Regions from separate parts of the Homo sapiens genome. Here region 2 is linked to region 1. The links come from fine-mapping of genetic effects on gene expression. A gene starts in region 1. The other region holds a variant in brackets. All regions are shown on one strand. Distances are from middle to middle.

Evidence for each region.
Region 2: its variant is fine-mapped to the expression of THBS4-AS1 in blood mononuclear cells (TOPMed, PIP 0.93).

Annotation. Positions count from the first base shown.
Region 1 is chr5:80,081,182-80,086,563 of GRCh38, reverse strand. THBS4-AS1 (THBS4 antisense RNA 1) reads left to right here and starts at 2,899. Exons shown (of 8, transcript NR_109930.1): 1 at 2,899-3,064; 2 at 4,027-4,204. THBS4 (thrombospondin 4) reads right to left here. Exons shown (of 22, transcript NM_003248.6): 21 at 4,019-4,158; 22 at 3,277-3,484. The coding sequence ends at 3,423. RefSeq lists an enhancer at 444-738 and silencers at 2,171-2,385, 3,501-3,590.
Region 2 is chr5:80,113,290-80,118,671 of GRCh38, reverse strand. It overlaps a transcript of SERINC5 not described here. Among named protein-coding and RNA genes, the nearest start is that of THBS4-AS1, 32 kb to the right of the region's middle. The variant A/G (reference allele first, on the strand shown) is at 2,167.

The sequences.
Region 1 (5,382 bases):
TCTGTCTCCTGAGGTTGCCTATGACCAAATTGGGCGGGGCTGTAAGATGCGGAGCTGTGGACACTGCAGGGGGTTTCTTCATGCCACTGAAAGGTTGAGCCACCCTTACAGTCCCGATGTTACTGGGGACCCCAGGCGTGTATCCCAAACAGGGGCACCCCACCTCTCACCCCTAGATTTATGCTGTACAGTATCTAGTTTGCCCACGGCCTCACTTCTGGACCAGATTCTTTTTTGCTGCTTGAGTCTGTTCCCAGTTATCTTCTAGCCTAGGCAATAAAAAATGCCTACAGATGTTTCAATAGCAGGTGGCTGGATTCTATATCTTCCTCATTCTCTTTAACTCTATAGCCTGTCTCCAAAATTAACCTAAGGATAATCACCATAATACTTCTGGAGCCTAGGACTAATAACCTGGATGGGGAGAAGGAAGAGTTTTTTTTTCCTTTTTCTTGAGTGTAGGCAAAAAGGGCTGCACATCCCTTTGTGCACCTGCTCCCATGCCCCCAGGCCTCCTCTGGCTGCCCCCAGTGCCCTCATCCTGCCCCCAGAGATCTCCCACACTTCCCGTGGGATTCTACTCAGCCATGATCTTTTCCCTACAGTGACAATGCCTCTTTTCTTTCCCAGCCACGCCTCCCATTCCCCCACAGTGACAATGCCTCTTTTCTTTCCCAGCCACGCCTCCCATTCCCCCAGTACTTAAAAAAAAAAAAAAAAAGTGAGACAGGATCTTGCTATGTTGCCCATGCTGGACTTGAACTCCTGGGCTCAAGTGATCCTCCCCATTCAGCCTCCCAGGTAGCCAGGACCACAGGTGCACACCACCATGCCCAGCTCCTCAGTCTTCTCGATCTCCATGAAAAGTCAGGAGGTGAATGGGCATTGGAATGAATTCATACTAGTTGGTGAGAGACTGATGGCCACTCAGTCCTAGAGGTGTAAGATTCAAATGAGGCTCTTACTAACCTAATGGAACTGTAATAGGAATTTGAGTCATTGTGCTAAGGTTGAGTATAACAAGTATCCAAGAAGCCCAGGGAGTTACCTGGGGGAGAGCATACCACACCTGCTAGCTCATCCCGTCAGTCTGCAACTGGCTAGCTTCTCTCAAGTGCTTCCTGATTTTCACTTTTTTTTTTTTTTGTTTTTGTTTTTGGAGACACGTCTTGCTCTGTCGCCCAGGCTGGAGTGCAGTGGCACGATCTCAGCTCACTGCAACCTCCGCCTCCCGGGTTCAAGAGATTCTTGTGCTTCAGCCACCTGAGGAGCTGGGAGTATAGGCAGGAGCCACTGCACCTGGCCTAATTTTTGTATTTTTAGTAGAGATGGGGTTTTACCATGTTGGCCAGACTGGTCCCAAACTCCTGACCTCAAGCGATCCTCCCACCTAGGCCTCCCAAAGTGCTAGGATTACAGGTGTGAGCCATAGCACCCCACCCATTTTCACTTTTCTTACTTCATTTCTTATGCAAGAAATTTTCTGAAAGCCTCAAGTTTTCTACATCAGCTTCAAAAATATAAGGAGGGCCAACTAGGAATAGGACAAGGTAGAATAATCACTTGTGTGCTGATAAATATTTAACAACCAGTTCTCTGGAGCCCTGATTTGTAGTGTTTGCCAGTTTCTGTGTAAATACTCCCACCATGGCCAATTTCAAACTACCAACCGTTTAACTGGCTCACAATATTCCTAAAACTTGAATAGTTGGCTCTTATGAGCTGGTAGGAGTTGGCTTCAGCACACTGCTGGTTCTACATGCGTCTTTGTTTCTTGTTTTGCATAAATAACAAGTTTTGTCTTCCCAAAAATGTAATAAGCTCCCTAAGGGATGGAATTATGTTCTGGATCTCCTGTGGGCCCATGGTTTCTAAAATAGTTATAGACACAAAAGATTTAACCAAGAGAGTCTGTTTCCTGTGGACATACTGCGTTCTTGGGCTTGCACAGCCGACAACAGGGAGGCTGCCCCAGGGGTGGGCATGGTGTGGGTTGCTGCCTCCTTTCACCAGCCTCACTCTCATTGCCCAGGCTGGAGTACAGTGGTGCAATCTCTGCTCACTGCAGCCTCTGCCTCCCCAGCTCAAGTGATTCTCCCACTTCAACCTCCCAAATAGCTGGGACTATAGGCAAGTGGCACCACACCTGGCTAATTTTTGTATTTTTAGTAGAGATGGGTTTCGCCACGTTGGCCAGGCTGGTCTTGAACTCCTGGCCTCAAGTGATCTGCCTGCCTTGGCCTCCCAAAGTGCTTGGGACCACAGGCAAGTGCCACCACACCTGGCCCCATTGGAGTTTTTGATGTAGGAGATCAGATGTCCTGGATTACAAGGCCACACACATCTCCAGGCTGTACATGAGAGGAGGATGTCCAGAAATCCTCCAGATCTCATGCATGCACCATTGTATTTTCTCACTGTTAAAGTCATGATAAAACTGTGGTGTTTTTTTCTTCATACATGATTTAATATATCTCTAGGAATTCTGGAATAAGAAAATATATAACCGCACAGCAATATTCTTTGAAACAAAATTTCTAGAGAATTTATAAAAATTTGCTTGGATCTTGATTTACAATTGAAATACAAGAAAGGCTAGTGTACAAATTAGGCAAGTTTCTGTGCTGTACATCCAGCTACTGGTACCACAAATAGAGGATATGTTGTGACTTTTTGAGTTGAGGAGGACTTTTATGATCATGTACACTCTACTGTCCTTTAAGAGGCATTCATTCATTCATTCTTCGTTTATTAATTCAGTAAACATTTACTGGCTATTTACTACATTCCAGGTACTGTGGGGATATTGATTGTAATGACATGATCCTTTATTGTCAATATGCTTACAGTCCACTAGGGGGAGCCAAATATATAAATAAGCTTAAGAATTACGTTGAAGGGGCCAGAATAGAAGTCTGTGGAAGGTGTGGGATGGGATGACAGCATCAGAAAGAATTGGGCAAATCTGTCCCAGGACTAGGTCAGAAAAACGCCTCCCTAGGGAAGGTGCCACCCCAAACACGTGTTTCTGAGACCCCTTACCCGAAATAAGGAGGCTGCCAAGGTGAGCATGGAACGGTTAGGCGTTTTGTATGGAGCAAACTGGGGGGACCCCAGCTGAGACCTCTGGCCTGGGCCTTGTGATTCACGCATAGGCTCATCTTATCGGCCACCGGGTCTGAGAAGAAACTACCACCCTGCAAGTTAACAGGGATCCCTCCGAGAACGGGCACCTCAAAGCCTGAGCCACGTGAGAGCAATGTCTGAGCAACACGGTTTTTAAAAATGATCTCTTCTCCTTTATTGCCACATTCACATAAAACGTTTTGATATATTTGGGTTGGTAAAAGCTAAAGAAAATTGAAGTTAAAATATATATGGTTTTAGTGTTCCGAAAAGCAGTTACAGATTGCTTCCTTGGTTTAATTATCGAAGCGGTCGAAATTCTGGGTTTGAAACTCTTGGAAGTCCTCAGGGATGGTGTCTGCAATAGGAATGGGCACAGGGAGGTTAGCGAGGCTCCTTCCACCCCGGACCCCGGACCCCCGCCCGCGGCTCAGGCGTCCTGTAGGGGGCGCTGTTAGCCCGCCCAGGACGCCCCGCAGGCCCTCGCCGCCATTTTCTCCTGCAGGCTGCTTTGCAAACCGTTGGCTTAAAGCCCAGGAGTGCTCCTTCCCGGCCGTGCAGAAAATCAGCAGGCAGAATGGATTTTGCATCTGTGATTATGTTTTAACCACATGAAAATAAAGGCTTCCTGTAAATTAAATCTGACTGGATTTCTCACTGAACCCCAAACCCTAAACCATGCAGTTAAATTCTATGGGTCTTAATTTCCACATGGATAAAATAGGATAAATGTGATCTGCTTTTTACTTCTGGTACACAGGGACTATCAGGTTTTAATGACTATGTGGTATGAGCGTTGGGCTTTTGGGGGGGAAGTGCGGTATAAAAATAAGGTGGCAGTGTTTGACTAATTCTAGTAACAATGTTGAACAGTAACGAGAATGCACATTACCATTGCAGCGATACTTGAGGTTGGACCAGATGATGTTTTCTTGAGAGAAGCAGAAAACGCCAAGTCGGCCTCCACGCATTGTGGTGTCTATGGTGACGCCAGAGTCAGCCACCAACTCAGAGCCTTCATAAAATCGTACCCTGCGGACAACACGGCCGGAGGGGCCTCCATGAAATCCAACCCGGGGTAAAGTGCCCACTGTGAGGCCCAGGGGCCCCACTTCTTATACGTACCTGCGTCTTTCTTTGCTCTGTTTTAGGCTCCATTTTTCGCTGACCTGGATTGTACTGTAGCTGTTGCCACTTACTTACTAGACTGGAAGTCCTTGAGGGCAGGGACCGTGTGTGTCCGTGTGTGTGTGGAGGGGGGTGGGGGGTGTTTCTTCCCAACTTCTGTCTCTCACAAGGCCTAACATGATGTTGGTCACACTATCAAACTTGAGTTAAAAATCAAACCAAACCAAACCTGCTATCTTGAGTGAGAAAGTTTTGTGTCTTATTGTCATGTGAGTTGCCTTGTCTAGATACCATGCTTAAAAACTTTGGCTTTTCCTTTGGTCTGATTTATATCTTTTGGTGGAATCTCAGAGCAATGATTCTCCACAGGAGACAGCACTCCCTAAGTAGAGTTGGAGGAATCTGTGGGGACACTTTGGGTTGTCACAGTGGCACTGAGTGATGGCAGCCAGGGATGCTGGATGGCGAGCAATGCCCTGGCGAGAACAATCAAAACCTGTCCTGCATTCCATACACTTCTGGAGTGTTCCTCAGACACCAGGGTAGGTAAAGAGCAACTATCAGGGCCTAGAACCTGACTCACTTTCACTTGTAAACAGCAAGTATATTTTGCACAAATTTTAATATAAACTATATTTTCCAGGGTAAATTGAGAAAATTTGTTTGAAAATTAACATTCTAAAATGTGTACCATTTGAGAAATTTACATTGCTGTCATCAACCAGTGTAACAAACATTTAAGTCACTGACACAACAGTCTGTTAGAATGTCACCTTCGTAGTGATTCTAGGCATGGGTGCAAGTGTCTGTTTCATTTTGTCTTCTGGTGTGGCTGTGCTCAAATATTTAAATTATTTTGTTATAAATTATTCTTATTTCTCTATGATATTGTTAGGGCTCACATTGATTTTCTAGATTATACGTGTAGGTAGGTTGTAATTTCTATGATTCCATTTTGGGACGGAAAAGGGGGCATTTCAAAATATTTATAATAAAAAAGGGGCATTGGGCTTAATAGGGCTGAGAACATGATCATCTCACTGTGAGACAAAAAGAGTACATTTGACATAATGTCACAAAGAGAAACAAAACATGAATTTGCCCTCATGATTTTCTTTTTTCCACAAG
Region 2 (5,382 bases), 32 kb before region 1:
GGAGGCTGAGGTGGGAGGATCACTTGAGCCTGGGAGGCAGAGGTTTCAGCTAGCCAAAATTGTGCCACTGTACTCCATCCTGGGGGACAGAGTGAGACCCTGTCTCAAAAGAAAGAAAGAAAAAAAAGAGACTAGAAGCCTTATAAAAGGAAGAGAGATCCCTGGCCCCTTCCGCAATGAGGACATAGTTAAAAGACCTCACCAGACACTACAGCTTCCAGTGCCTTGATCTTGGACTTCCAAGCCTCCAGAACTGTGAGAAATAAATGTTTGTTGTTTGTAAGCTACCCAGCATCTGGTATTTTGTTATAGTTGCCTGAACAGTCTAAGATAGATGGTTCCCAAAAAGACGTCTACATCCTAATTTCCAGAACTGTAAATGTTAACTTTGCAGACGTAATGAAATTAGGGATCTTGATTTGAGGAGATCACCCTGGATTAGCCAAGTTATTATTATTATTTTTTTTTTGAGGTGGAGTCTTGCTCTGTCACCCAGGCTGGAGTGCAATGGTGTGATCTCAGTTCATTGCAACCTCCGCCTCCCAGTTTCAAGCAATTCTCTTGCCTCCACCTCCTGAGTAGCTGCAATTACAGGAGCCCGCCACCACGCCTGGCTAATTTTTGTATTTTTAGTAGAGATGGGGTTTCACCATGTTGACCAGGCTGGTCTCAAACCCCTGACCTCAAGTGATCTGCCCACCTCGGCCTCCCAACATGCTGGGATTACAGGCATGAGCCACCATGTCTGGCATGACAAGTGTTTTTATAAGAGACACACTGAGGAGAAAACAGACACAGATGAGATGATAAGAAGACTAGGTAGAAATTGGAGTGGTGCAGCTACAAGCCAAGGCATGCTGACAGCCACCCAAAGCTGGAAGAAGTAAGTAATAGATCACCCCCTAGATCCTTTGGAGGGAGCACAGCCCTGACAACATAGTACTTTCAGACTTCTGGTCTTCAGAACTGTGAGAGAGTAACTTTCTGTGTTGTAAATCACTGGTTTGTGGTCTTTTTTTTTTTTTTTTTCAGTAGCCACAGGAAGACTAGTACATTCTATTTGTTTTATAAGAGCAAAACCACAAGGCAGCATATAATTCAAGGCTGAAGGAGTGTGGCATGCTGACAGATGGTAAGAAAAGCTGAATGTCAGAGAAAGATACCAAATCCAGTCAGTGGCTCTGTGTGATTATCAGTTAGTATGTGTCCTTTTCTCTTGTGTCCAACTTACATCATCACCATCACCTATTATTGAGCACTTAATATGTGCTAGGTACCAAGCTAAGTGCTTTGCCTAGATCACCTCAGTTAAGCCTCGCACTAATTCTATGAGGTAGGTGCCAATATTTGCCTATTTTACAAATGAGGAAACTGAGGCTCAGAGAGGTGAGGTCCCATCTGCAGTTGGACTGTGAGTAAACGGCAGAGTGAGGACCAGAACTCAAGTGTGTCTTACTGCAGAGTCTTGGCTTACGCAGTTCCTAGCCATCTTCCGTGTTAGTTTGTTCTTCTGCATATAGTCATTGTAGTTAAGAGCTCTGGGCCAGGCATGGTGGCTCACACCTGTAATCCCAGCACTTTGGGAGGCTGAGGCGGGCGGATCGCCTGAGATCGGGAGTTTGAGACCAGCCTGGCCAACATGGCGAAACCCCGTCTCTACTAAAAAACACAAAAAATTAGATGGGCCTGGTGGCACTCGCCTGTAATCCCAGCTACTTGGGAGGCTGAGGCAGGAGAATCAGTTGAACCTGGGAGTCAGAGGTTGCAGTGAGCCGAGATTGTGTCAGTATACTCCAGCCTGGGCGAGAGAGCAAGACCCCGTCTAAAAAAAAAAAAAAGAGCTCTCCAGTTTCTGGTCACCAGAAAGTCACTTGAGCCAGTGGGGGTGGAATGAGGCCTGGCTCTATGAACCTGAGTCGTCTAGTGTAGGACATCCCCCTCCAGGCCAGAGCAGCCTGCCTCTGTGGATGTTTGTTAATGAACGAGTGAACATATGGTTGGGCTGCCAGCAGAGCTCTGCCTATCTCAGGGCCACAGGAGGCATTTATGTCATCCTCTTGGTAGGTATGCCACTAGCGTCTGAGCTCAGTTACTGAGCTTCTTCCCACTGAGGAGAAAAGGCAGGTAAGCCTGGCTCTCACTCTCTGCCTCACCCACTAAGCCTGG[A/G]GAGTGGGGAAGGAGGGGTATGGAGATTATAGCATGCAAGTCCCAGGGAAGGGAACGGAGAAAATGGACTGAAGTTTCTGATAAGGTTCATAGTGATCTGGATGGCCTGGGCCTGTCCCATTCTCTGTCCAGGAAGAGGAAGGGAACACAAGGTGAGATTTTGATTTCTATTTTGTTCCCAGAAACTATCAATGCTGAAGACTTAAGGCCTCTTAAGAATACCCTTTTTGCAAGAGGGGATGGAAACATCTCTGGCCCCAACTCCGACAGGAAAGCCTGGTTTTAGCATTGAAAAGATGATTGAATACAGCTTGCCTTTTCTCCAGGGAAGAGAGACAAGATGGAGTGCCAGAGAGGCCTACGGCAAGGTGCCTATTTTTGCATTGCTGCAGCAACGTGGAGGCTTTCTGCCCTGCCTCACACCCCTCATCCATCAGCCCCAGCCTTCCCCATCATGGTTCTCTCAGATGAGGCCTGATTGTTGATTTCTTTCACGTGTGTGTGGAATTAACATCTTCTATCCCTTTCAATGTTGAATTAACTTAGTGACGAACTCATTAAGGACTCCTTATCAAGGCTTTCCCTCCTTTCTATAATTTTATCCATTGTCAGCTTTGACAGAAATCCCACTGAAGGTTTGTCAAAGAGCCATTGAAGAGTTCTAAGTGGTCTTGCTTGCAGAGGGCAACTGCACTTGACCTCTATTTATACTTTTTGTAGTACTCTTGCCTGGACTCAGAGATGCAACTGGGATTGAAATTATATTTACCAAACATCAACATATTGATGTTAGACCTTAAAAGAAGAAAACGTAAAACAGCATACAGTCTTTTTGCAGTAAACAGTAAACTCAGGAAATTTTTATTCATTGATTCCTTCCTTCAACAAAATTATGGTTAAGAATACCTGCTATTTGTCAAATTCTAAGATTATGAAATAGAACAAATTCTACCCTCAACTTACTCAAAGTCTAGACAGGGAAGCAGAAAATAGCAAATAATTACTATATGTTGTGATATGTACCACAGCCTGAAGAGAAATATACTGAAAACTGAGAATTCAAAAAAGATTGAATTAATAGTTGGTGGGTTCATAATAAGCAACTACAGTAAATGAGGAATATTAGAGGGTTATTCTGAACCTGCTAAGGTCATTGGAGAGACAACCTTGGATGATAGGTCTGGTTCCTGGGTGGGTTTTGAGCAAGGCTTGGGCTGGACCTGGGGTGCATTTGAGCTATACCGTGTGCCCCCAGTTTCACCCTAGCAGTGATGGTCCTTGGCAGCAGTTTATCTGCTTTATTTCTCCCCACCCATTTTTATAGTAAAACGTCTGCTAAAAATGATGTCAGTAAAAGCAGTCGCTATAGTGAAGTTGAATGTCATTTCTGGGACACTGGGTGTGTAACAGTTGCATGTAGGGAGTGGGTGGCTCCACTTTCCCTAATCAAAGACAGGGAAGTCCTGGCATTGAGCCAGGAGGGTTGGGCAACTGGATTGGGCGGCAGAAAATCAGTCATTGTCTCTGCCTTTTCCCTGGTTTATGGAGTGTCACAGATCCAGAGACACACATTTCTTGTCTATAAAATGGGAATAATGTTTGCTTCCACCTTACTCATTTAAAAACATTTCTTACAATTCCTAGTCAGAGTTATTTGTCAAAAAGCTTTTGTGGGTGGTGATATGGTTTGGCCCTGTGTCCCCACCCAAATCTCATCTCAAATTGTAATCCCCCCATGTTGTGGGAGGGACCTGGTGGGAGTGATTGGATCATGAAGGCGGTTTCCCCAATGCTGTTCTTGTGATGGTGAGGGAGTTCTCACAAGATCTGACCTTTTTTTTTTTTTTTTTTGAGATGGAGTCCCACTCTGTTGCCCAGGCTGGAGTACAGTGGCATGATCTTGGCTCACTGCAACCTCCACCTCCCAGATGTCAAGCGATTCTCTTGCCTCAGCCTCCCAAGTAGCTGGGGTTACAGGCATGTGCCACCATGGTGAGCTAATTTTTGTATTTTTAGTGGTGATGGGGTTTTACCATGTTGGCCAGGCTGGTCTCGAACTCCTGACCTCAAGTGATCTGCCTGCCTCAACCTCCCAAAGTGCTGGGATTATAGGTGTGAGCCACTGCACCCAGCCGTGATCTGATGATTTAAGAGTGGCAGTTTCTTCTACATGCTCTTTCTCTTCTGCTGCCTTGTAAGATGTGCCTTGCTTCCCCTTCACCTTCTGCCATGATTGTAAGTTTCCTGAGGCCTCCCCAGCCATGCAGAACTGTGAGTCAATTAAACCTCCTTTCTTTATAAATTACCCAGTCTCAGGTAGTCTTTATAGCAGTATGAAAACAGACTAATACAGACGGCCAACATTTTGGTTAGGTGAAGACGTTTAGCTTTCAGTTGTTTGTTTGGGCCCACTCCTTGTAACTTAGCATGGAGACGGTGCTGAAGAAATGGGGCTAGGGCAGGTCATTGTTAATTGAGGGAAGGATCCTGGGAACATCGGGTTATCTTGAGGACACCCAGAGATGGGAGTGTGAATGGAAGTACCCAGAGTCTGGCAGCAAAGGCACCAGGCCTGGGGAGCCTCGCCCACAGGCATGGGTGGGGGGGCACACAGCATGGCAGAGGTTATGGGTGGGTGCCATCAGGTGGTGATGCATGATATAGTTTGGCTGTGTCCCCACCCAAATCTCAACTTGAATTGTATCTCCCAGAATTCCCACATGTTGTGGGAGGGGGCCAGGGTGAGGTAATTGAATCATGGGGGCCGGTCTTTCTCGTGCTATTCTTGTGATAGTGAATAAGTCTCATGAGAGCTGATGGGTTTATCAGGGTTTTCTGCTTTTGCTTCTCCCTCTTTTTCTCTTGCTGCTGCCATGTAAGAAGTGCCTTTCACCTCCTGCCATGATTCTGAGGCCTCCCCAGCCATGTGGAACTGTAAGTCCAATTAAACCTCTTTTTCTTCCCAGTCTCTGGTATGTCTTTATCAGCAGCATGAAAACAAACTAATACAATGCATATCCCCTCGTTCCCCATCCTTGCTCTCCTGAAAATGAGAGCACTGAGGATGTGTCCAGACCCGTCACAGAAGAAACATGAATGGCTATGCCACTCAGAAAAAAATGTTCAGCCACACGAGAGTCAAGCAGAATGCAGACTAGAAATGATACTAGTTTTACCTACCAAATTGGGAAAAAATAAAAGAAGATAATGGACAAT